3 separate regions of the Homo sapiens genome follow, and all the other regions are linked to region 1. Evidence: fine-mapped expression QTL. A gene starts in region 1. Each other region holds a variant in brackets. All regions are shown on one strand. Distances are from middle to middle. Region 1 holds the start of NSUN2 (NOP2/Sun RNA methyltransferase 2). Region 2 overlaps NSUN2 (NOP2/Sun RNA methyltransferase 2). Region 3 overlaps SRD5A1 (steroid 5 alpha-reductase 1).

What was found. PIP is the estimated chance that this variant, and not a neighbour inherited with it, causes the effect. A credible set is the group of variants that fine-mapping cannot tell apart.
Region 2: its variant is the best candidate, but not a certain one, in a credible set for the expression of NSUN2 in putamen (GTEx, PIP 0.75).
Region 3: its variant is the best candidate, but not a certain one, in a credible set for the expression of NSUN2 in whole blood (INTERVAL, PIP 0.59).

What each region holds. Positions count from the first base shown.
Region 1 is chr5:6,629,587-6,637,767 of GRCh38, forward strand. It overlaps NSUN2 (NOP2/Sun RNA methyltransferase 2), which reads right to left and starts at 3,458. Exons shown (of 19, transcript NM_017755.6): 1 at 3,298-3,458; 2 at 3,013-3,170; 3 at 2,287-2,391. The coding sequence starts at 3,393. It overlaps SRD5A1 (steroid 5 alpha-reductase 1), which reads left to right and starts at 3,854. Exons shown (of 5, transcript NM_001047.4): 1 at 3,854-4,283. The coding sequence starts at 3,991. RefSeq lists enhancers at 3,554-4,065, 4,066-4,577 and a silencer at 3,701-4,090.
Region 2 is chr5:6,596,319-6,604,499 of GRCh38, forward strand. NSUN2 (NOP2/Sun RNA methyltransferase 2) reads right to left here. Exons shown (of 19, transcript NM_017755.6): 17 at 7,820-7,958; 18 at 6,143-6,182; 19 at 2,921-3,914. The coding sequence ends at 3,608. Among named protein-coding and RNA genes, the nearest start is that of LINC01018, 18 kb to the left of the region's middle. The variant G/T (reference allele first, on the strand shown) is at 3,633.
Region 3 is chr5:6,662,726-6,670,906 of GRCh38, forward strand. SRD5A1 (steroid 5 alpha-reductase 1) reads left to right here. Exons shown (of 5, transcript NM_001047.4): 4 at 91-241; 5 at 5,477-8,181. The coding sequence ends at 5,543. Among named protein-coding and RNA genes, the nearest start is that of SRD5A1, 33 kb to the left of the region's middle. The variant G/A (reference allele first, on the strand shown) is at 4,084.

The sequences.
Region 1 (8,181 bases):
AGCACATACATGCATCACTGCTAAAAATACAAACATGCCCGAGGAGAATCGTAATCCTGTCTTCTTAAAATATTTTAGATGGTTTGGCTCTGTGTTCCCACCCCAATTTCACCTTGAATTGTAATATTCCCCACGTGTCAAGGGCAGGACGAGGTGGAGATAATTAAATCCCCGGGCCGTTTCCCTCATGTTGTTCTCACAACAGTGAGTTCGTTCTCAGGGGGAGATCTGATGGTTTATTAGGGGCTTCTTCCTTTGCTCAGCACTCATTCTCTCTCCTGCCACCCTGTGCAGAGAGATCTTCCGCCATGATTTTAAGCTTCCTGAGGCCTCCCCGGCGATGTGGAAATGTGAGTCAATTAAGCCTATTTCCTTTATCTATACATTACTCAGGTATGTCCTTATAACAGTGTGAAAATGGACTACTACAGTATCAGACCTCTACTTCAAGTACAACACAATCAGTGTCGTCAATCAAATCTTCAAACCAAACGACTTGAGCAAAGTCTACAACCTAGTTACCAGGAGGAAGAAAAGCTTGATCTCGTGAAGGTTACCTCATCTCAGCAATGCCATAACTAGAGGCTGAAAAACATCTACCTTTTCCACTGATCTCACTACAGTGGACAATTAGTGACCACTAACAGCAACGTAGCACCCGTATCATTTTCCTATACTGTACCCTTCAAGCTTTTAAAAATCTAAGATGTGGCATATCTATTCTTTTTTCCCTTTTTGAGACATGGTCTCGCTCTGTGGCCCAGGCTGGAGTGCAGTGGCATGATCTTGGCTTACTGCAACCTCCACCTCCTGGGTTCAAGCGATTCTCATGCCTCAGCCTCCCTAGTGTCTGGGATTACAGGCGTGTGCCACCATGCCTGTCTAATTTTTGTATTTTTAGTAGAGATAGGGTTTCACGATGTTGGTCATATTTATTCCTATATCCCAGCAACACATTCCATGATGGTGATATTCGGTCTTGATACTGGTTGAATACTGACTTAATGTTTGGCCAGTCAGCATTCATTGTGAATGTATATGCTTATCTGTGATAGGGACAATGAAAATCCAAATAGCCAATGAAAGAAAAACAAGCAAATCTGTACCCCATGATTAATGAAAATCTGACCTTGATTTGCGAACACTAAAGGTTATCCAAAAAGGAAAGATAACACTACGTACTGGAATAGTCAAAACCTCAAAAGTTGATGCAAAACGCTTAATTTGGCAGGGCGCAGTGGCTCACGCCTGTAATCCCAGCACTTTGGGAGGCCGAGGTGGGCGGATCATGAGGTCAGGAGATGAGACCATCCTGGCTAGCAAGGTAAAAACCCGTCTCCACTAAAAATACAAAAAAATTGGCCGGGCGTGGTGGCGGGCACCTGTAGTCCCAGCTACTCGGGAGGCTGAGACAAGAGAATGGCGTGAACCAGGGAGGTGGAGCTTGCAGTGAGCCAAGATGGTGCCACTGCTCTCCAGCCTGGGCGACAGAGTGAGACTCCGTCTCCAAACAAACAAACAGACAAACAAAAAACGGCTTAATTCACCTTTTCGTGCATTACTTTTCTGAGAACTCAATACCTCAAAGTTAATAATAACGACTTTCCCACTTATGTAAGTTAACTGAAGGACTGGCGCCTCCGGAGTTCTCCAAGCATCTTTACAAGATGCTATCAGCACAAGGGATCACCTTCATACAACTGAGACTAGAACCGAGCCATGAGGAATAGGTAACCCAGAAGGCACCTCCAGGACAGGTCAAGAAAGAGGTAGCTCCCAGAGTAGTAGCACGCTTGGGTGCTGAGACTCGGAAATGCTACATTGGCTGGTGCAGTCTGTACTGCGAAGTACCAGGAGACAACCTGACAGCAGACAGTGGTAACCTGTCTGTAATGGAAAACACTAAGAGACTACCTACCAGGAGACTGTTGTCAAGCTAAGTCTGTCCTTTTTCTGAAGGCAAAGCAGCCACTCTGCAACAGTTTTGATGTGAGAAAACAAGGGCTGTAAAAGGGAGCTGGCGGAAGTGGTGACATAAAGGAAGAGGCTGGATGTACTAGGAAGAGCTGGCTGAAATCAGTGACTCATAAAGCTGCAAATCGCAAATCGCATGAAAACTTGCGTAGCAATATAATGTTGATAAAAGCACCAGGTACTAGAACATTAGGATGTTTGCAAAGTATACCCAAGCTCTTTAACAGCAAATGCAGTACCAAGAAATATAATTCAAGTGATAGAGATTAATATCCCAAATAAATATTCGGCATGAAGCACTGTGGTACCTACCAACTCAGTGGCTGTGGAACTTCAACTTTCTGACCGTCCACCTCCAGGTCCTCCAATTCCTTAAAATATTTGTTCTTTAAGCAATGGAGAATCTCTTTTGCGTGGCTATTGAAAAATAAGGAAGTTTCAAACTGATCTAAAAAACTAAGTTAATACATTGTATCTTCTTAAATTTAAGACTGCAAGTGTTTTAAAACTAAAACCAACTTTTGCATGGAGAGTAAACATTCTTTAGTCACTACTTTTACACTGTATGCCTTCAAAATTTAAGCAATCCACACTGTTTGAGCCCTAAGAGCAACACTGCATTCCTTCTCTCCTAAGCATATCCTACCGTTAAGTTTTACTTGCGACTCATTTAGAAAGATGTAACTACAAAGATGGAGGGGGGGCGCGGAGGAGGGGAGAACCAAGGGGTTTTATGCATTCTCTATAAATTCTCTTACGTTCCAAAAGGTAAGACCCTCAGCTTCCCTCCTGGAAGATTCCCCAGGAGCCGAATCTTCCTCAGATCTCATTTTCATTTCGTCTTCTAACCTTGCGCCTGCAATACCTCCGTGACCATTTCATTGGACCCTGTGCTCCCCACCTCAATGCTTCCTGAATCCAAACCGCTGAAACGCCACGGTTCTCTGGCACTGTAACACTTGTCGAAGAAAACACCGTCGCCTTTAACCTCCAGCATCCTGGCCCCAACTCCCAAAAAATCAGGCACTGCCTCCCTACCTTTTGTAACCAGTAATTCTTAAAGTGGCCGGGAGCGGCTCCCTGAGAGCGTCCATGAACTGGCCCCACTCGCCCTCGGGCACGATCTTGAGCTCCTGGTAGTAGTGCTCGAACAGCTTGTTCTCCTTGACGATCTCGGGGTAGCCTCCTTCCCAGCCCTGAGGAAGGAAAGAGACGTCTACCCCGAGGCCCAAGGAGCCGCCCCCTCGCCGCCGCCTCGCAGGCCTCGGGGTCCGGGAAGCCCAGGAGGAGCCCCTGGCCCGCCCGCCGGGTCCCGGCTCCTACCGCCTCGCCGCGCTTTCCACCACCCTCGGCGCCATCCTCCGCGTCCTCCGGCCGCTGCTGTTGCTGGAGCCGCCGACCCCGCGACCGCCGCCCCATAGCCCACGCGGCCGCGCACGCAGCACGCAGAAACCGGCCCGCCACGGCCAGAACTCTAGCCCTACACCTCCCGGGACTTCCGGCCGGAAACCAAGGCCCCACGTGTCCGGGCCTGGTCCTTTCGGGGACCTTTGGGGACCGTCCAGGAATAAGCCCAAAGCGCACAACCCGTCTTTCAGAAAAGCGGCGTGACAGGGAAAACAGCGAACAGCTCTAAGGGGAAAAAAATGCTCCAGGAAGCAGCCACAAAGGCGTCTCCGCGCGAAGCGCCCAGGTTTCCCACGCGGGCTCAAGGAGCTCCGCGGACAGCCTGAAGCCGCGCGTGCGCAGAGCGGCGCGGGGTTACTGCGGCCCCGGCGTGGGTGGGGCGCTTGCAGGTCCCTCCCCGCGCAAGTGCTCGCCCCGCCCCCGGGGCCGCACCCACAGCCCCGGCTACCCCGGAGAAGCCTGACTTGAGAACCCTTTCTGCAGAGTCCCGGCAGTGCGGGACTCCGGTAGCCGCCCCTCCGGTAGCCGCCCCTCCTGCCCCCGCGCCGCCGCCCTATATGTTGCCCGCCGCGGCCTCTGGGGCATGGAGCACGCTGCCCAGCCCTGGCGATGGCAACGGCGACGGGGGTGGCGGAGGAGCGCCTGCTGGCCGCGCTCGCCTACCTGCAGTGCGCCGTGGGCTGCGCGGTCTTCGCGCGCAATCGTCAGACGAACTCAGTGTACGGCCGCCACGCGCTGCCCAGCCACAGGCTCCGAGTGCCGGCGCGGGCCGCCTGGGTGGTGCAGGAGCTGCCCTCGCTGGCCCTGCCGCTCTACCAGTACGCCAGCGAGTCCGCCCCGCGTCTCCGCAGCGCGCCCAACTGCATCCTCCTGGCCATGTTCCTCGTCCACTACGGGCATCGGTAACGTCCCCGGCCCCCGGCCCCCTACCCTACTCCCGGCCCGGCGTCCTCTCCGACCCTCCCCTCACTGCCCGGTGCCCTCTCCCCGAAGCCTCCCCCACCCAGATGCCCTCTCCCTGCCAGATCCCCCGGGGCGTCCCCCATCTGCACGGGTGCCCTTCCCCGAGTCCCCCGGCCCCGGGAGTTTGGAAACCAGAAGGGATTCGTCTGGAAAGGGCGGGAAACAAAGGACTGGAAGGGAGTGATGGAAAAAAACATGATGAAACTGATCTGGAAAGAGCCACTCAGTGGTCCTAGGTTTGGTTTCCTTAGCCGGGCGCGGTGGCGCCTGTCTGTGATCCCAGTTACTCGGGAGTCTGAGATGGAAGAATCGCTTGAACCCGAGAGGCGGAGGTTACAGTGAGCCGAGATCTCGCCACTGCCCTCCAGCCTGGGTGACAGAGCGAGACTCTGTCTCAAAATTAAATATATAAAAATAAAGAGTTAAAAAGTAAAAATGTAAAATAAAAATGAAGACTAGATTTTGTTCCCTTAGATCACGACTGTGGGGGCGGGGGGGAGGGGGTTGGCCTAGAGTCTAATGCTGATGGTCGGTCTTGAGGGCCACTGGTTTCTACTCCTTTCTGCCGGTTCCCCTTTTGGTATCTTTGGTGATGGTGGAGCTGTTTTCTCCCAGCCAAGTGATCAGCTGCAACTGGAAACCTGCTGTCCTAAAACTGCCTAGCAGTTTCTCCTTATAGGCTTGATCACTTTCAGAGACTTTCATGTCCACCTTATGCAAGGGACCCCAGGATTGTGGGGGTGGAAAGCCAGCAACCTTAAACCTTAAACAAACGAAGTCTTAAAGATGACTTCTAAATCTTTCAAGGTTTTTGTTTTTTTGAATATTTGAAAACTGGCTGTGTCTGAAATCTTCAAGCCTTCTAATAAGTTGGGGTTCTCTCCAGGTCGTATCTTTTGGCTTTTACACAGCCAAAGCAAACGACAGGTCGAAAGTTCAAAATTAAATTTTAAACGTTTTCATTCAGGCTCTGGAAAGCTTCACAGTTAAAAAGGATGTCTCTACACCCAAGGAAGTTGAACTCACTGGCTGTGTGACTATGGGCAGTTTACCCAACCTTTCTGATTTGGGGTCCCACCTTAAAACACTCACTTCCCAGAGAGACAGGAAGAACTCAGTGTGTGTTTATAAGCCTCTCTTCTTTCTCCTGGTGTCATGCATTCCAGCGAAGAGAAAGTACACAGCTCCACTACTTGGAACCAGTGTTGTACCCAGCACAGTTTTTGGTACCTGAGTTCCCTGAAAACCAGCACCTTACCCTGTAACTGGTGCAGTCTGTGTCCTCAGTGTGCTTTGATGACTTGCACTTTAAACAAGGGCAAGTCAACATTCATCAGAGGCTTAGTGAGTACTGTGTGCCTGAAACTCTTTACCATTGCTTTATTTTTTTTTTGGAATGGGATCAACCATTGCTACAATTTGAATATTAGTCAGACTTTGCTGTTTGTATATACTTTTCCATAAATATACCAGAAGCTGTATGTCTGTTTCTTTATGGCTAAAAGCAATCTCAGGTCAGAGTATTCGGTGCTATCCTAGTCCCATCAGTCATGACCCTGGATGAGTTACTAAGCTGCCCCGCAGCAAGGTTTCCCCACCTGTAGAATGGGCATGGTGATGGAACCCCCCTGTGGGATCACATGAATTTAGAGCAAAGGCAACTCCCTAAAATGCTTGCATGGTGCTGGCGCATCTGCGTGCTCAGTACACAATACCTAGCACTATTTTGCATTGCTGTGAATGCACATCCAGACATGTACTCTGTGTGTCATTCATGTGCACTGCTGCCAGCCTCATGTGCCAGCAAAACTGTGGTGTTGGAAATCAAGGGAACACTTGACAAAGTTTTGCCTGACATCCCAAGTGGAAGCTTTTTAACTTGAGACATCATGTTTCATTGTACCTACATTCACTCAAGCAGAAAAATGAATGCAGCCTCCCAAAGGGCCAGAGTCACCTTGAATGATAGAACTTGAACAGCTCATTCATACAGAGTAGAACACGGAGGCACAGCATGCTGCTGTCTTCCCTGAGGCTGTTGGATAAGGAGCTGCTGGGATGAAAGCCCACTTCCTATACTAATAGTTTAAAAGCTGCTCCAAGAGGATTGGCTGGGTCAGGTATAGTTTTTTTTTTAAATTGCTAGGCTATTTTTTTTTTGAGTTGTACATGTTATTGTGTACATAGTCTATGTGGTTTGGGGACATTTACATTTTCCAAATAGAAAAGATAAACATTTTCCATTCTACCCAAGCAACTAATTTATTAAACAGTCACTTGATCTAAGTCATGAGCACTTGGAAGAGAACCAGAGTGGAAACAGCATTTAGCACTGAACACAAACCATCCCAGCAGCCCCTGGAAGCGTCCTGGAGCCCTTTATTTGCACAGGGCCCTGCAGAGAACGGAGAACACCACACCCGGTGAGAGGAGGCTGTGGGTACAAGGATGACTCTTATGAAAGGCAGGAGAAAAGTGAGCCTGAGGAGGCGCTGGCCAGGCAGAGCCAGTACCACCTTACACAACCTGACAGGTGTGCACACAGGCCCTGTGCTGACCTGTGAGGTTTCGCTGGAGTGAGGTTGGGCCCTGCCTTGGGGAACTAGAGCCTCTTTTGGGAGTGGCAAGGACCAGAGCCAGGTCCAGGGACTTTCCACAGTCCATGAGGCCTGAAGGCAGCAGCAGAGCTACAGCTCTTCCCAGAGCAACTGACTGTTCTGGGAACAATGAGTACAGGACAGTCAGGTCAAGGAGGGAGGAAAGGTGAAGGAAGGGATAGAGGGAATGGTGCGCTTTCATGTATTTATTCAGCAAACACTTAAGGAAGACTTACGTGCCAGTGAGGATTTCTGGACCTGGCGTTGTGCTGGGGATATAGTGACAAGACATTCCCTTTGAGTTGAGGAGTAAAAGACAGGTTATGGAGAATCTATGGGGTCTTTTGGACACAAACACCAGGGAGGGAAGGACAGGCTGCCTGGAAGGGGACAGGGCTGGGGTGGGGGGATAGCCATGACGCAGGACGAGCTGTGGTCCTGACCAGTTCCCCCAGGAGGGCAAAGGACATTTTCAGGAACATCTTTAGGGCTCACGGTAGCGACAAGGATTGCCTGCCTCCTATCTGTGCTGAAGCCTCCTTCTGATCCCAGGGCGCTTGGGTTCTTGGGTGCAGGGGCGGCAGCGTCTCACTGGGGCCCTAGTCATGTAGAGCATGGAGTGGCGTCTGGCATGGTGGCAGCCCCTGGAGGCAGGTGCCTTCCCCAGCCTCCTGGCAGGCCTCCCTAGGGCCTTCCGAAGCCTGTGCCTACTCCTATCACCTTTGCCCTCTGCTCTGTGATTACAGTGACGCCCCGCTGCATTTACCCTGTTCCCTGGCCCTCTATTTTGTCTCCCTGGGCTGGTGCTGTAACCCAGGTCCTCATCATCTGTGTTGGTTCTTGCTGGGCTTCTTCACTCTTCCCCACTGGTCTTTCTCTACCCTCGTTTGTAAATCCTGCTTTGCTAGACACAGCAAAAGTCTCCCGGAGTCAAGGGCATTAGCTCTGAACTGTGTCGGAGTCGCTGGGGGGCTTTGCAGACTGTGCCTGACCTCATGCTCTTTCTCTCCACCCACGCAGCTTTGTTCAGTATTCCCTGAACCCAGGCTGCTTTGCTCATGGATTTTCCTTCCCCACTATCAGCAGTGAATTAGTCAGGGGATTGTCTCTGCATTGCACATTCATTTAACAAATAACTCCGAGGAGCCTGAGCAGGAGGTGCCGCTTGCCACGGGAGTCCTCAGTGACTGCCTTTGTTAGGACTGGTGGCCAAATGGTGCCCAGAGTGCACAGTCAGATG
Region 2 (8,181 bases), 33 kb before region 1:
TGCCCATTAATAATTTTGTCCTCTGGGCTCACAGAGATACAGATATCTCTTTCGCAGCACTTATTCACTACTCACTTGTTAACTGAATAGAGCTAAGATTACCATGTTTTAATAGAGAGGGCCCCTGACTTACAATTCTCAACGCATGATTTTTTGGCTTTATGATGGTAGGAAAGCAACACATATTCAATAGAAACTGTACTTTGGATTTTGATCTCTACCTGGGCTGGTGATCTGTAGTCGATATCCTTGTGATGTGGGGCAATGGCCGAGTTGCTCCAACAGCCATACGATCACAAGGGTAAACAACCAACCCTCTGCAGGGGACTGTGTTGCCAGATGATTTTCCCAACTGTAGCATGGAAGTGTTCTGAGCATGCTGAAGGTAGTCTAGGTGTACTTAATGCACTTTGATGTAGGACATTTTCAACTAATGCTGGGCTTATCAAGACATAATCCCATCGTAAGCTGAAGAGCATCTGTATTTAAAATCTCCTTGTTAACACTGGCCAGCCCACATAGATGCCCTCCTCAGAGGCAACCAAAACTGTCAATTTCTTCTGTATCCTTCCAGTTACTTTACATAAATTCAAAAGCACATGTCTCCAAGCCTGTGTATTTTCCCCCTGTACACAATGGCAGCAGAATGCACATTCTTCTCTACACCTTGCGTTTCTTTCTTGGTGGTCACTGGACTCCAGGACACAGCGAGCTGCTTCAGCCCCTTTGCTGGCCAGTGTCCACGTGGGGGCTCTGCACCATTGGTGTCCCAGTGCCTCGTCATTGATGCTGAGGGCTTCCAGGTTTCTGCTATTAACAACATTGCATCAAATGACTCTGCAGACACATTTGACTCATCTGTGGGCCTGTGAAGTGGACTCGCTGGCTCAAAGTTGTCCTTCTTTTTAGGAAATTTATTTTATTCATCTACTCAACAGGTACGTCAAAGTTCAAAGGAAACAAAGAGTTTTCAGTAAAAAGTTTTTCTCCCATTTAAGCACCCCCACCAGAAGGCAACCACTACTCCCAACCTATGGGGCTGGCTACTTCAGAGAGGCCCTCATCAGAGACAACCCTGCTGGGTGGAAGCGAAAACTCCTTCAGCTGATGTCTTTTCTTCTGCCGTGCACTCTTCGGGAATCGGAAGACCCTTACCAAAATGCTGATTAAAGTTAGAGAAAGAAAATCCTCCATGTTAGGAGCAGTCTTCTCTTGAATGTTTCCTCAGGCTTATCCATACACCATAATAACTGTCCACCTTATTTATCAATTTTTAAGTTTTCTTCTCCCTGTGTGGTCTGTACTTGCTAGCTGCTATTCTGTTGTCTTTGACCCCTACATCCATCCAACACTGGAGGCTGCTCTGTGTCTGGTTACCCGGGGTTGCCTATTCTGACAAGGCAAGGTGCTCACAGGCAGTGCTGAGTGTGGGAGTGACTCCTCGCTTTGAGCGTCGCTACAGGGTGATAAGAGTGGGCTACTTCCCAGGAACCCTAAGGCCGCTATCTTTACGGCTTCTTTGAAGCTAGACAGTTTCCCCAGAGAAGCATCTTTCAACAATCCCCTTCTGTAGACCAAGATCTCACTGCCCTAAAAGTTCTGGGGGCTGAGGGAGGAGAAAGATGCTGAGAGCACTAAACCCATCCCCACACACCTGTGTGGCCCCCAGGTCCCCACCGTGCCCGGTGTCCCCAGTCCAGGGCCTGGACCAGCAAGTAGGATAAAGCACTGAAACTGACTGGAAACAGTTCCCACTGGCCAATGCCGGGACAATCTGAGAACCAAAATAAATGACAGTAATAATAAATAAATAACTGAATAAAACAGAATCCTTGAATCCGTACTGACAGAAAATGAATCAAGAAGCAAACAAAGGACAGAGGAGTGCTTATTCTATGTAATGAGAACTAATAATGTAGAAGTGATGAAAAATGGGGGAAAACAATTTGTAGCTGTCACAGTAAAAACTGGCTCAGGCAAATTATCAAGAAATACTAAAGCTGGCAGTTAAAAGTTTGATGAGAGAGAGGAATATAGTCTTGAAATGTCTCCTTGCACAATACTTACAAATTTTTCAGTGGAGAAACTTGGCAGACAGATACCATGTTACTAATAATAAAACAAACTTCACCACCACTATAAAGAGAAAACCCAACATCGTCAGCCTCCTGGCATGACGCAGCGAGAACACAGCACCACCTCTGTGGTCCTCCTGTCAAAAACGCACACATCACAGGGACACTTCAGACCAACCAAAACTGAAGCACATTCAGACTACCTGACCGGTACCCTGCAAGACTGTCTCAATCATAAAAGACAGACTGGGAACTGTTTCTGACGGTAGTGAACTCGAGACAAGACAGCCAAAGGCAACTGGTGTCACCCCAGACAAAATTGGACATTGTGACTGCAAAGGACATTACTGGGCCGCTGGAGCGAGCTTGCTGGTTTGAGGGTGACCTGCATCCACGTTTCTGACGCCTATGCTGCGAGCTGTAAAGAGGGCCTCTGTTTCCAGGAAACACCACAGGAGCAAGGGGGTAACGGAACACGTCTGTAACTTACTGTCAAAGGGTTCAGAAAACAATGAGTGACATGCAAGCACACCAGAGGATGCAAATGCAAATGTAGAGAAATGTTCAGTGGAGAATGTGGGCGAAAGAGAAATAGGAGCTCTTCACGCCACAGAGCTTGAAAGTATTCCACAGTGGAGACTCCAGAGACAAATCCACCAAAGGCAGTGTGTGGTCGGTGTTTGTACAGACCAACACACAAAATGAGGTAGACAGGAAGACAGCAGCCTTCACAGTAAAACCGCTTTCACTAGAGAAAATAAGGATGTATTCTAACACTGCCATTTAGCCAAAAGTAAGTTTGTTCTTTCTGCTTCCTAAGAGCAAAAACAGGAATCACACATGTATATATTTTATCAATTTTATTGAAATATTCCAAGGATCCCAACCCCATTTAAAAATAAAAATTGTAAAGCACTCCATTCAATAAAAGCACATAAGTCCCCCTCAATAATTAGTATGACAATTCACGATACAGCTCTTACTCTGGGAGAGTTTATTTTACCCTTTATTCCAAAAGGCACAAAGTCATCTGAGGCCTCAGATATTAACCCCACTGCATGTTAATGACACACCACTGAGGTGCAGCTCAATGTAATTATTAAAGCTTATAACACACTTCCCCAAGAATTTATAGATTCTTTCTATAAATAATAATTTAAAAAATACTGCACCTTAAGACCAATACAGGCTTAACAAAAGACCTGAAATTTCTGCAAGGGCAGTTTTGTTTCTTGATAGAAGTACAACTTTTGAAAGTCTATTCCCAGCAAAAGAAACACTAGACCCAGCTTGGCCAAAGAAACAAAATAAAACAAGTGATTTCTAACACGCTAAAAGAGTACATTTTCATCAGCTCCAAAGAAAGCAGTCCTGGTCATTCAGAAGGCTCCTATGATCCCACCAGTCTGCAGTCATTAGAAATATATGCTTTACAGGCCACAGGCTGCTCTGGATTTGGTTTCAGACACCAGTGACCAGAAGAAGCCAGTTTTGCGTGTGAGGGGTGTGGGCCCCCGCTGCCTTGGGCCTGCTCACCGGGGTGGATGGACCCCCGCC[G/T]GGTCACAGCCTGCTGTCACGTCTGGACTGTTGGCCTCTTCTGCATCTGGGCTGTTGGGCTCTCCTGCTCTCTGTCCCTCAGTCACGTCATTGTCTGGCTGTCCGGTGCTGGCTGCACTCTCATTTGTGAGGATAACCCCTTCCTTCTTCTTTTCTCCCAATACCTCCAGCCCCATCATCCTGAGATAATGAAGCCGTTCATTCTTGGGCACAAAAGTTCGAATGGAGGCCTTTCCCCGCCATCCGCATAAGACGATGGGACACTGCAGAGCGTCTGGATTCCTACAAGTGAAAGTGGCTTCATGTAGAACATTAAACATTCCCATAACTAAATCGAATGAGATGTAATATGCAACTGCTTAAAAAAGAAAACCACAGAAAACCCATACCCACAAAACCCCCAAAACTACTGGGAGGACATTTCATCTGGATCCGAGGGGTAGGTTTTCTCAAAGGACTTCCTTCTTCATGTCCTGAGTAAAATTCTCACCCTCGCTTTCGCCCTGCCTCTTTAAGTTCACAATGGAGTAGAGGCCCCAAATCTACAGATTTCACATACACTTTCTACATACTTCCTTCTCAAACTTAACTTACTGTCCCCGCCACCCCGTGTCACCTCACCCCACTAAATGAGAAGCGTTTCTCCACAGGCTCCCTGCAGCTCACCTCAAGTTTCCTAAGTGGACTGAAGCTCCTGAGAGGCTGGGAGACTCTGCCCTTAGCAGGGCGTCAGAGCAGGACCCAGGACCACCGGGAGACTCTGCCCTTAGCAGGGCTGCCAGAGCAGAACCCAGGACCACTCATCCTTTTGATACTCAGTGTTAGCGTGATTTCTTCTCCAGGGACCCCACATGGCAGTCTGAGCCCTGCTGGGCACACAGTGCTCATTTCCGTTCCCAGCATGCAGTGTTACCCACAGTCAAAAACATCCCTGCCTCTCTGAACATGCTCCGAGCCTCCCTACCTTCCAGGCTCCACCTGTCCAGCCAGGAGGCATCGACGCCCCAGCAGAGATGGACGCCACCATTTCCAACCTGCACACGCCCTCTCTCAACTTATCTGATTTCTTTCATACGGGACTCTGACCTAGATTTTAGGCTCCTAACGGCCGTGTTTAATCACCTTTCCATTTTTCCTAATGTAAAGCAGGGGCACAAAGGTGGTTTTAAGAAGTGAGAGGAAAATATAAGAAATTCCCAACTCCCATCTTCTTAAAAAAAAAAAACCATTATTCCTGAAGTTGACCTGTCACCTGTGTATTTCACCAAGTAGAAACAAGTGTTTAAATATGGAAAAGTGAATCCACACCTTAAAATATCCCAATATTTTCTATGTGGGCCACATGGGACTGTTATTTTAAAAACCATTTCTGAGTCTTTGTTCAAACTCTCGTTAAAAACACCCAGAAGCCATCAATCACTAGATGCTCCTGCCCGTTCACCATCCAGACACCATCCGCCTCCAGCAGGTCCCCAGGGTGCTCATGCGCTCGGCCTCGCTGACCTCTCCAGCCCATCCATCTGTTGTTCCCTCACCAAGTTCCTGCCCCTCCCACCTCAGCCCCCACCTGTCCTCTCTCCACATGGCAGCCGGACAGCCTGAACCCTGAGGACATGTGGCCCCTCGGCCTCCCTGCCAACCTCTTACCTATCCCTCCTCCTTCCCTACTTGGCTGGGCCCGCCCCGACCCCCAGCTTGCACCTGCCTCAGGATCTGCGCTTTGGTGGTTCCTTCAAGTTAGCACTGGATCCCTGGTCCAACACTAACTTCCCAAAGAAATCTGTACAGTGGTTCTACCTATTCACTCCCCCAAATCCCAGTCAGCCGTGGACCCCATTCTGTTTCCTCCTCTCAGAAATGGTGTTGCATGTCACCAAGACGGAGCTGTTGCAGGTGAGATCCGAATTCTGCCACTCGTGAGCTGAGGAGCTCTGGGCAAGCCACCTAACTTTCTGTCCCGGCTTCCTCCTCTGGCAAGTGCTGCCAAAACCAGCACCTGCTCCCCCAAGGCCCCCCACAAGGATGCAGCGTGAATACATGCAAGCAGCGTGGAGCAGTGGTCCCGTGGGGACCGTGAGTGCAAGCGTGAGCAAATCCCATGCTCCGGCCCTAGCACTCCTGATGCAGTAACATGTCAGCAACACACATGGCTGAACCAGCCATGAGGACAAAAGAACGGAACCTCACTCAACTGTCCAATCTTCACACTTACTCTGTACAAGACAGAAATTTTCATTGGTTTCTAATGCTTAAAAAATAAGTACTATGCATTTTATTCTCTGTAAGTAAAAATTCACTTAGCCTGAGCTGAGTGTTCTATGAAACAGCATCTTCATGATGACCTACAGGAATATTTTGGTTCTGAAGTTTTCACAAGGCTACTTCTGAGGAACAATCACAAAAGGCCTGAAGAAGGTTCCCACCTTCCCAAGTCACTTTCCTCACCAACGAGAACACTGTAGCTAATGACAAGGCGTGTGTGTCTAAGGGCAGGGCGTGTACTGACTTACGCAGAATCTGGTTCATACTTCAGCACGATGCTTCCCTTTGCTGGAAAAGAAACAGACACACATTTGCCAGGTTTTCCAGGTAGTGGATGCATGCGCTGAGCACATTTCTGCACCTAGTGATGTGTTAAGTATTCTGAAGAAAGAAAACAACAAATAATCTACATTCTTGGCTTCAAGGATCTAGATGGTGAAAAGAGGCCGTCTGGATACATGAACCAAGTCCAAATGACGCAGTAGGGACGATCTGGAAGAGGACCCAGGCAAAAGCCATTCAGGGACTTCAAGGGATGTCACCTGACAATCCACTCTGAGAAGCAAGGAGGCTGGGGATTAACTGCTGGTTAATTCTTCAAAATTCAAAATTAAATAAACTATAACACCAACTCCCAGAATGGCATGAAATACATAAAAATTGTCTAAAACAATACTGCAATCATCTAAGTGCAGGATTAAAAGAAAACCAGTATAAACAGGTCCTTTATCCTTTACAAGAATCTCTACTTTAAATTGTGGTTCTTGCCTGGAGACGGCAGTGGGAGACAGACTCCACAGAGCATGTTTTATATCCCAAAGGAACCACACGAGTAAGTTTTAAACGCAAGTAAGAAACGTAACTGCAAGAAGTGATTCACGTACTTTTGATCAAATTGAGCCAAAAATATTAAACAGCAAGTTATTTAAAAAAATAAACAAGAATGAAGACAACAGAAAGAAAATTAGAACAGCTTGGAGAAATGATTTTTATGCTTAGGGGAAAACGTCACTGGAGTGATCTGAAGTGGAAGTTGATGAAATATAAAAGCAGCAATATGACCAATAATCTACTCCAGCTGGCTAGCAGAAAAGTCAGAACTGCTGGCAAGACTCTTATTTTGCTCTAACACAGGTGATTAAAATCTGCATGTTAGCCAGTCTCGTGAGGCTGTGTACCTTAAAAAACAAATTTACTGGCTGGGCGCGGTGGCCCACGCCTGTAATCCCAGCACTTTGGGAGGCTGAGACAGGCAGATCACAAGGTCAGGAGATTGAGACCATCCTGGCTAACACGGTGAAACCCCGTCTCTACTAAAAATACAAAAAATTAGCTGGGCGTGGTGGCGGGTGCTTGTAGTCCCAGCTACTTGGGAGGCTGGGGCAGGAGAATGGCTGAACCTGGGAGGCGGAGCTTGCAGTGAGCCGAGATCGTGCCACTGTACTCCAGCCTGGGTGACAGAGCGAGACTCTGTCTCAAAACAAAAAAAGAAAAAAACAAATTTGCTCATGCACAGAGACCTGCTTCCACCCACCCCCGACCTGCTGACAGGCAAGTGGGTCAAGAGCTCTGGCTGGGAGGCTTGCCAGGGCTGCTCACAGGCTGACCCCTCCTCTCCCCGGACTCTCTGGCCCAGCAAGGTGAGCAAAGGCCAGCCCTGCACGCCACACAGACACACCACAGGCTGCTGGGCAGCAGCAGGGCACCACCAGAGCCTGGGGAAGTACACCAACCCCAAGATGCCTTTGACCCTTAGCATTCTGAACTGTCAATCAGGGATCTACAGAACCCTCTGGAAATTGATGTAGCCATAAATAAACTGAAAACTATGATTGATAAATATGCCCCAACGCACACCACCTGCATTTTTGCTGGCCTTATAAAGGGAATACAAGTTATGTCTCTATGCATTTCCAACTACTCACCCAGGTCCTTTGCTTGACTGTAGGTCTCACTGCTGAGTTTTCTAAAAAAGGGATTTTCCTGGGTCAACAGTATCTTAACATCTTCCATTGATACAGTAATAATTCTTGAGTTAATAAATGGATACAATGTATATATTCCCTGTGTGAATAAAGAGAATGAGAGAACAGATACCATGATGTCATTCATGAACGACAACAGCCTGCTCTCAGGGGCTATGCTCTTAGCGGCTATGGTGGTCGAGCCCTCACTATGGCCCCTCCCCTTGGACAGGTGTGGAACCCACCCCCCCCTAGGAGGGGAAACCAGCACTCTGGGAGAGCTCTATAACCTGTGAGGGTCAAGTGGCTGGTAGGTGCCAGCC
Region 3 (8,181 bases), 33 kb after region 1:
ATGTTCTCCAGGTAAGTATTCACTAGCATCTCTGAAGTCCGTATTTCATTTTGTAGTAAATGCACTACTTTGGTCTGTGTTTTCTTCTAGGAGGCTTATTTGAATACGTAACTGCAGCCAACTATTTTGGAGAAATCATGGAGTGGTGTGGCTATGCCCTGGCCAGCTGGTCTGTCCAAGGCGCGGCTTTTGCTTTCTTCACGTTTTGTTTTTTATCTGGTAGAGCAAAAGAGCATCATGAGTAAGTTTTAAAACACTTTTACCATTTGTAATTTGTTCTTTGACTATATTATTACCATTTTTCAGGCTAGATTTTTGAAGTGTTAATTTAAATCGCTGAATTCCAGTTTATTCTGTGCTTTGGCCAAACAAGTACAAAACCAAATAGCTGTAGAATCACCCAGCTCTAGGGAATAATCAGGTCCACATCAGCACAGTTGTTCTCTATACCACGTCCTTAGCCTCTCTGAATTGACAGTGCTGAATTCAGTGGTCAAGTTAGACACCAAGCAGGGGATTCAGGGCTCTGAATGGGAAATACTGATTAAAACAGATCCCTGACTGAGCAATAGCCAATGGCCAGCTTGCGAATGCTGCAGGTTGAGGAAGTCCTGAAGAGGTAGGTGAATCTCAGAGCCCAGCGACACTGGCAGAACTCATACACACAAGAGCTCTCCAGCTATGTGGTGGCTTAGGCCATGGCTCTGAACCTGGGGTCCTTAATGGGCTACAGAAGCTCTGCATGCCCCCTAAAATGACATCATTTTCCAGAGACCGGGTCCTTGGCTTTTATCTGATCCCCCAAAAGGCTTGCGAGCCATTTGACCAACACACTCATAAAGAAATCAAAGGGACTGGGCGCGGTGGCTCATGCCTGTAATCCCAGCACTTTGGGAGGCCAAGGCCGGTGGATCACTTGAGGTCAGGAGTTCAAGACTCACCTGGCCAACATGGTGAAATCCCGTCTCTACTAAAAATACAAAAATTAGTCAGGCGTGGTGGCGGGCGCCTGTAATCCCAGCTACTCGGGAGGCTGAGGTACGAGAATCCCTTGAACCTGGGAGGTGGAGGCTGCAGTGAGCCGATATCGCACCACTGCACTCCAGCCTGGTTGAGAGAGTGAGACTCAGTCTCAAAAAAAAAAGAAAAAAGGAAAAGAAATTGAAGGATGTCAAGGCTGAAGTGAATTTAGAGAACATCTTTCTAATCCAATGGATGAGGAAACTGAGGTTCAGGGAGCAGAGTCTGAGGCCAGCCAGGAGCCCCATCTCATTGACGGGAAGAGATCTCAGGAGCAACGTGGGATCTTTACCTGCCCTGACATTGGCGCGTGTCCCTGACAATAAATGATGGAGACTGGGCTTAGCAAGCGGCCAGCCTGGTATGCACATTTACTATGTCCCCTGAGCCACCCACTTCATCCACTCAAAACATCTAATCGAAATCTCCAATGCTGCTGATGCTACGAGGTGCAAAAATGTATAACTCTGTCCTACTTCATGGAGTTTATCATCTTTTTTGGGACTAAGGACAGAGAGAAAAAGCTAAAAGAAGAATAGATTGATATGGTATAGTGGGAAGAGTACCTAGGTGTACTTCCCAGCCTCACCACGAGTTTGCAGATGCAAAGGATGATTATTGGAGATAAGAAGAAGAAAGGTCATATCTGAAGTATCTCTTTGTCTAATTTTTTTTTTAAGACAGCATCTCACTCTGTCACCCAGGCTGGAGTGCAGTGGCACAATCTCAGCTCACTGCCACCTCTGCCTCCCAGGCTCAGGTGATCTTCCCACCTCAGCCTTCCAAGTAGCTGGGATTACAGGCATGCACCACCAGGCCTGGCTAATTTTTTATATTTTTTGTAGAGTTGTGGTCTCACTATATTGCCCAAGCTGGTCTTAAACTCCTGGACTCAAGTAATCCTCACACCTCAGCCTCCTGAAGTGCTAGGATTCGAGGCGTGAGCCAACGTGGCTGGCCTCTTTGTCTAATACTTGAAGAAGTGATAGCATAAATGTGAGCTCTAAGAGCAGCGCCCCGCATTCTTCGAGACACTCCATCGTGCCAGTGGCCTGGTATTTTCACGCATAGACAGTGAGGAGAGAGCGAGATCAGAGAGCCACGACCTACCTAAATCCCAGAGCTGCTGAGAAAAACAGAGGGGTCTGCGGAAAGTTGAGTGAGTGCCGAAGGCAGAGAGGGTTTGAGAAGGAGGCTCAATGCCAGGCATGGCAGAAAACACTGTGGGCCAGGAATGGGCCTTCTGTGCTGAGAACTGTGTCTGCCAGAAGGTCATATGAGAGTCCTAAGCCCTGGCACCTGTGAAAGCGACCTTACTGGAGAACGTTATCAGTTGAGATGAGAAGGGGAAACGTGGATAGACGTACACCAGGTGATCACACAGAGTGGGAAGGCCATGCGAAGATGGACACAGAGGCGGGGGCGATGCAGCCATGAACCCAGGAACACGTGGTGCCACCAGAGCTGGGGGAAATGGGACTGGAACCTTCCCTGAACCTTCAGAGGGAGCGTAGCCCTGCTGCCACCTTGATTTCCAACTCCTGGCATCCAGAACTGGGAGAGAATCAGTGGCCGTTATTATAAGCCACCCAGTGTGTGGTTAACTTTGTTCTAGCAGCCACAGGGAACTGATACGCCAGCCTTCCAGCCATTTAAAATTGACTGGGAAAGTAAGGGCAGGAGTATGATTGGTGAACCCCTCTGTTTTCTCCTCCGCCAGATGACTTTGTTGTCACCGGTTTGGTTGAAATACAACGTTATCTCTCTAAATATACATTCTACAATCTGACTTCCTCCCCTCTGCGCCCGCTGCTCCCAGCACTGCACCTGGCCTGGGCCTCACTTCCCGGTGAAGATGCCATCCTTTTATATTCCTAATATTTGATGTGAAGAAGTGAGTAATGGCTCATTTCTCATTAAAAGAAACAAATGAGATAACACTGACGTTTAAAAAAACACGGATCAGAGTAAGATTGAACATGGGCACACCAAGTCAGTGGCAAAGATGTTTTCTCAAATGAAATCAGGAAACAGGAAAGCCCCTCTCAGTATTTGAATATGAAACATATAGAAATGGAAAATAAATAATTCAGTTATCTAAATGAAAGTCTTTGCTAATGAAAACCCAAAGATAGTCTTTGCAGAAGAGTTCATGAGTTGAAAGAGCTCTTTGTCATTCATTTGCTGTTTAAATTGGTGTCAGTGTGAAACCAGTTTTAAGCCCTGAAGAATTAATCAATTCAGTTTTGCAGAAGTATGTTCAGAAATGTAGGACTTACAAGCTGAGAATAAAATAAAAACTCCTTTTTAAAAAATATTTTCATAAACCCAACTAATTAAGCCATCAAATAAAAGTATTCCAAAAGAAAACATGCCAAGGATCTATTCCTTGCACTCCATTTATAATGTTCTTTTTTTTTTTGAGACAGTCTCGCTCTGTCGCCCAGGCTGGAGTGCAGTGGCGCGATCTCGGCTCACTGCAAGCTCTGCCTCCCAGGTTCACGCCATTCTCCTGCCTCAGCCTCCTGAGTAGCTGGGACTACAGGTGCCCGCCACCATGCCCGGCTAATTTTTTTGTATTTTTAGTAGAGACGGGGTTTCACCGTGTCAGCCAGGATGGTCTTGATCTCCTGACCTCGTGATTTGCCCGCCTCAGCCTCCCAAAGCACTGGAATTACAGGCGTCAGCCACCGCGCCTGACTGGATTATAACGTTCTAAAAACAAAATTGTATTCAATGAAATCTTTCTATAATAATCAGTATTTAAATTCATAAATGATTGCATTGATAGTTAATGCATTGATTTCTAGGTCAGAAACAGTCAACTGTGCTGGGTTGCTAACAAATATTCTCTTAAAGGGCAAAATTTAAAGGTATTCTAAGGAGTAAGAAAAATTTAATCATTTAAAAATAAATATTTTATTTCTATATAATGGTTTCTGTGAAATACACTTAACCTCTTCAGCCAACATCCCTTCATTGTGTGAGAACACCCTGACCTCACACATGTTCTTTCTGATGTCACGGAGCCCAGCCTTGCTGCCCAGCCTGGTGGGGGGGCGC[G/A]TTTTCTCGGCATCCTGCGGCAGTCCTGTGTTTCCCATCTCCCACCTGCCCTCTCGTGTTTGCCCATTTCAGGCTCTCCTGCTGTCATGTACTCTGCCCTTGCCTTTTCGGGCCAGGGTGCCCATCTTCCCACGGGCAGTTTCTGGGAGAGAGGCGCTCACCTGCTATGTCACTGTGCGGCGGCCAGTGCCGCTGGCCCATGGGGAAGCTCTTCAGCACTTGCAAGTGCTGGATGGCCTGGATCCCAGCAGGCCTGTGAACACCTTCAGCCTCTAACCAGCGAACATGTTTGCAATGCACTTTCGCAGGTTTGACACCAGCTGTTAGGCTTGGCCACGTTGTGTGTTGGGCACTCGTGGGTCCATGCGCCACCACTGAGCCACGTAGCTGGAAAGGCTGCAGTCTCGAGGCCTCATGCCAGGGGAAGTGACGCTTGATCCGGAAGTCCTGACCGACTTCTTAGAATTGTTCTTATTACATGCCTTTTTGGGGACACAGAACATACAAAAGTAAACGTGGCCGCCCAGTATGTTCGAATTCTCTATTTGTGGATTCCGGTGTTAAACTTAACTAAGACCAGCAGGGTTTTGCCAACTCCCTCTCAGTTTCTCGTCCTCATATGTTTCTACCACATTAACAATGAGCTAATTGCTTTCTATCATGATTTTTAGTCTGTTGTTTAATCTTTCTGTGTGTGTTTATAGAAACTCCCTTTCTCCATCTTGTCAAATTATTTCTAATTTTTACTCCATGCACTTAGTTGCCACCTTTCCCAACTGGCTATTATCCCCAAAACAAATGAGCACGCCTGCATTGATACAATTTATATCAAAACGGAAAATAATGTTTGTTTCGAGCACAAGGCTGAATGGTGGACAATGCCATATTGCATTTCCCCAGATTTCACCGAATCCTTACTAAGAGCGTTCATGAGCCTCCTGGTATGCAGCTGGGTGCCCACTCTACACACCCTGGGCTAGGCCAGTAGTTCCCAACTGCAGGCTGGAGAAAACTGCTGGAGTCACCAGCAGGTATTCAGGAAGCACCTACTTGGTCCTGCCCCTCCTCCAGCCTGCATGCTTTCCCCGGGGGCTGAAAAGACAGCTCCGCAATGTGCTGATCAGTATTTTCATCAAATGTCAGTAATTTTCCTTCCAGATAGAAAGGTGAATTCTATGGGCTACTTCTTCTGAATCACACTTTATGATTAGATATATTTAATTCTTCATGATAATAGGCAAAATTAAACTATAAGTATGAAATGCCAAAGTTTTTGTTACTACATTTAAAAAACTGAGTACTCTTTTGTAATGAAAAATATTGTCACTTTTGTTAGCATTGGTTAAATGTCTAAGCGACAGAATTATTTCCTTTTTTAATTTTTTTTTCTTAGGTGGTACCTCCGGAAATTTGAAGAGTATCCAAAGTTCAGAAAAATTATAATTCCATTTTTGTTTTAAGTGCGTTTTTCATGAAATTATCTTCAACTTGAAGCTTTCCAATGGCGCTTCTCTATGGACTTTGTAAATAAGTTATATCTTTGTAATTTTCCTGCTACTTTATCATTTTCAAGATGTCCTCTAGGAATTTTTTTTCTAGTAATTTTGCAATCTACCTAATAAGTACCTAAATACGCTGAAATGGAGGTTGAATATCCTACTGTGTAACAGGTCAGAATTTCAAGCTCTGGGTAATAACTGCTGATATTTTTTCTAATTTCAAATTTACCTCTTTTGGCTATGTCTTGCCAAGTGTGTATGAGACTAGACTTTACAACTGTCTTTGATGGCATTTTCAGAACAATAAATGTCACAATCCCTTCTATAGCCCCCTACAGTGATCTCTTCAAGGTCAACTGCAGTGTTGCTTCCCTCCCCCTATAGGGCTGGAATCTGTCTAGGAGCCCTCTCTCGGAGGCCACAGAGGCTGGGGGTAGCCATTGTGCAGTCATGGCCCGGGGGAAACTTGCCAACCTTCGTGTCAGGTGCTGTGTGTAAGTGGAGAACTTGGGGATAGAGGAGGAAGCTCCTCGTGGCCCTTCCAAGGTGAGGCAAAGGCATCTGGACTTGTTCCAGCCCAGCCCACCGGGTGACATCACCGGGCAGGGAGGGGTGCTGGTGGTGGTTCATACGGAGTAAGCTGCTCTGCCTGTGTGAGTGGCTCCTGGGCCCTAAACAGGCACCTTTAGGCCATGGGTCACTCACCGTGAGCCATCAATGTGCTCTGGTCTGACATGGTTTCTCTCTGTCTTCTAGTCTAGACCTAGTTTTTTTGTTCTGTTCCCCACGTATGGATATAGTAGAGATTGTTGTCTGTGAAATTTCTCTTTTGTAGATTTTGAGTTTTCCCTTGTAGTGTAAAGAATGATCACTTTCTGTAACAATAACAAGACCACTTTTTAAGATTTATCCTGTTTGTTCTTTGTTGATTGAAACATAATAATTGTTAAAATTCTCTACAGCCTTCTTTTTCTTCCATAGCTAATCTTCCTTCTAATAGTTTTTGCTTTCTGTTTTGCTGTTGTTGCTTTGCAAAGCTTTCCCCTCATAGCCTGTACCTGTTATCAATATAAAATAATCTTCCTGTTGAATGCTTCATGACTTGAATTCTACTTTGATAAAAACATTGCCATACTGCTTTTTATCTTGATGAATTCATCTGGCATTGCTTTGCCTTATCATCTCATCTGGAGTTTTTAAATGCCATTTGTTTCAGTTGTCTTTAACAACATAATAAATAGACTTTGCCATTTAACAAGGTAGCTCAAATTCTTTTACTAATTGTTACATCGAAACATTCTTTCATCATATTTCCTGTTTTTATTTGGTTTTTTCAACTTCTTCTGTTTACTATCTACAGTGATTTGGAAAGGAGATTTCCTTTAAAACAAACAAGCTTATTGGGAATGGCTTTTATGATTTTTAAAGTAGCCTTGAGAGCTTCCAGTTAAATCTGATGAGCTGAACATACACCTTTCCTTCTCCCCTCTCTATTCTGACCCCAGTTGAAATCACCTCAAAGGAATTTAGGTGGGGGAGTGGCCCCATAAAGAGAGTGAGAGAGAGTCACCACTGCAGATGGACCACAGCACGGGTGGAGATGGGCCTGATGTGGCAGAGCAGAGAGGCCATGACAGTGCACACCCTGCGGAGACCCTGGGTCCTCACATCTGGGCTGACAGAAGGCAGAGGGAAATGAGCATCTCAAAGTGAGACCAACTAAACATGGCGCCTGCAGCAGAAAGCAGTGTCCTCTGCACCCCCACTCTCCAGGGAGAGCACAGAGAGCCCAGAAATGAGCCATGTGCCCATTGCCGGGGAAGAGAAGGTAGGCTGAGGAGGTGGCCTTTCCTAACACAAAAATTAACTAAGTGGGGAAAACCAGAGAACTAGGTGTTGGCATCCCAGGAAAAAAATAAAGTCTCCACATTTTGGCCTATAGGGATCCTGCCCCATAATGGCTGGTTACCTCCTGCCTCAAGCTGCAGGGAAGCCAGGGGGTGGCATGGCCATGGCTTCTCCCTCAGAGAGGCCTCTGTGCACGACTTCAGTCACCCAACACTGACAGAACTTGGAACCCAAAAGCCCATTTCTCTCCTTCCGTCCAGACCCTGTCTGCTGTTATCTGTAGGAAGACCACAGCCAACTGCTATCATGACCAAAGCTAAAATCCAATGAGGCAGAGAACAATAGTTGTACCCATCTCCTCCTTAGTCTCCAAGGCCAGCGGTGCATGCATTTGTGCATTCAACAACATTTGCCAAGCACTTACTGTATATCAAGCACAGCAGTGGGTGCTGAGGACGGATGGGTAGAAAAAACAGTCCTGGCCCAGGTGGAGTGACAGGTAAGAAACAAGTAAGTAGCTAAAATAATGTTAGGTAGAAAAAAATAACAAGAATAAAAGCAAGGAAAAGGGAAGGGACCCTCACTTGTGTCTGATACAGCCATAATCTTCTCTATCGGCCATTGCTGTAACCAAAGCTTAACCACCTTTCTTAAGATATTGATCAACCAGATCATTGCAAATACTGCTAATTGATTCCTTTTTATGGCTGAGTAGTATTCCATTGTATATATATATATACCACTTGTTGAC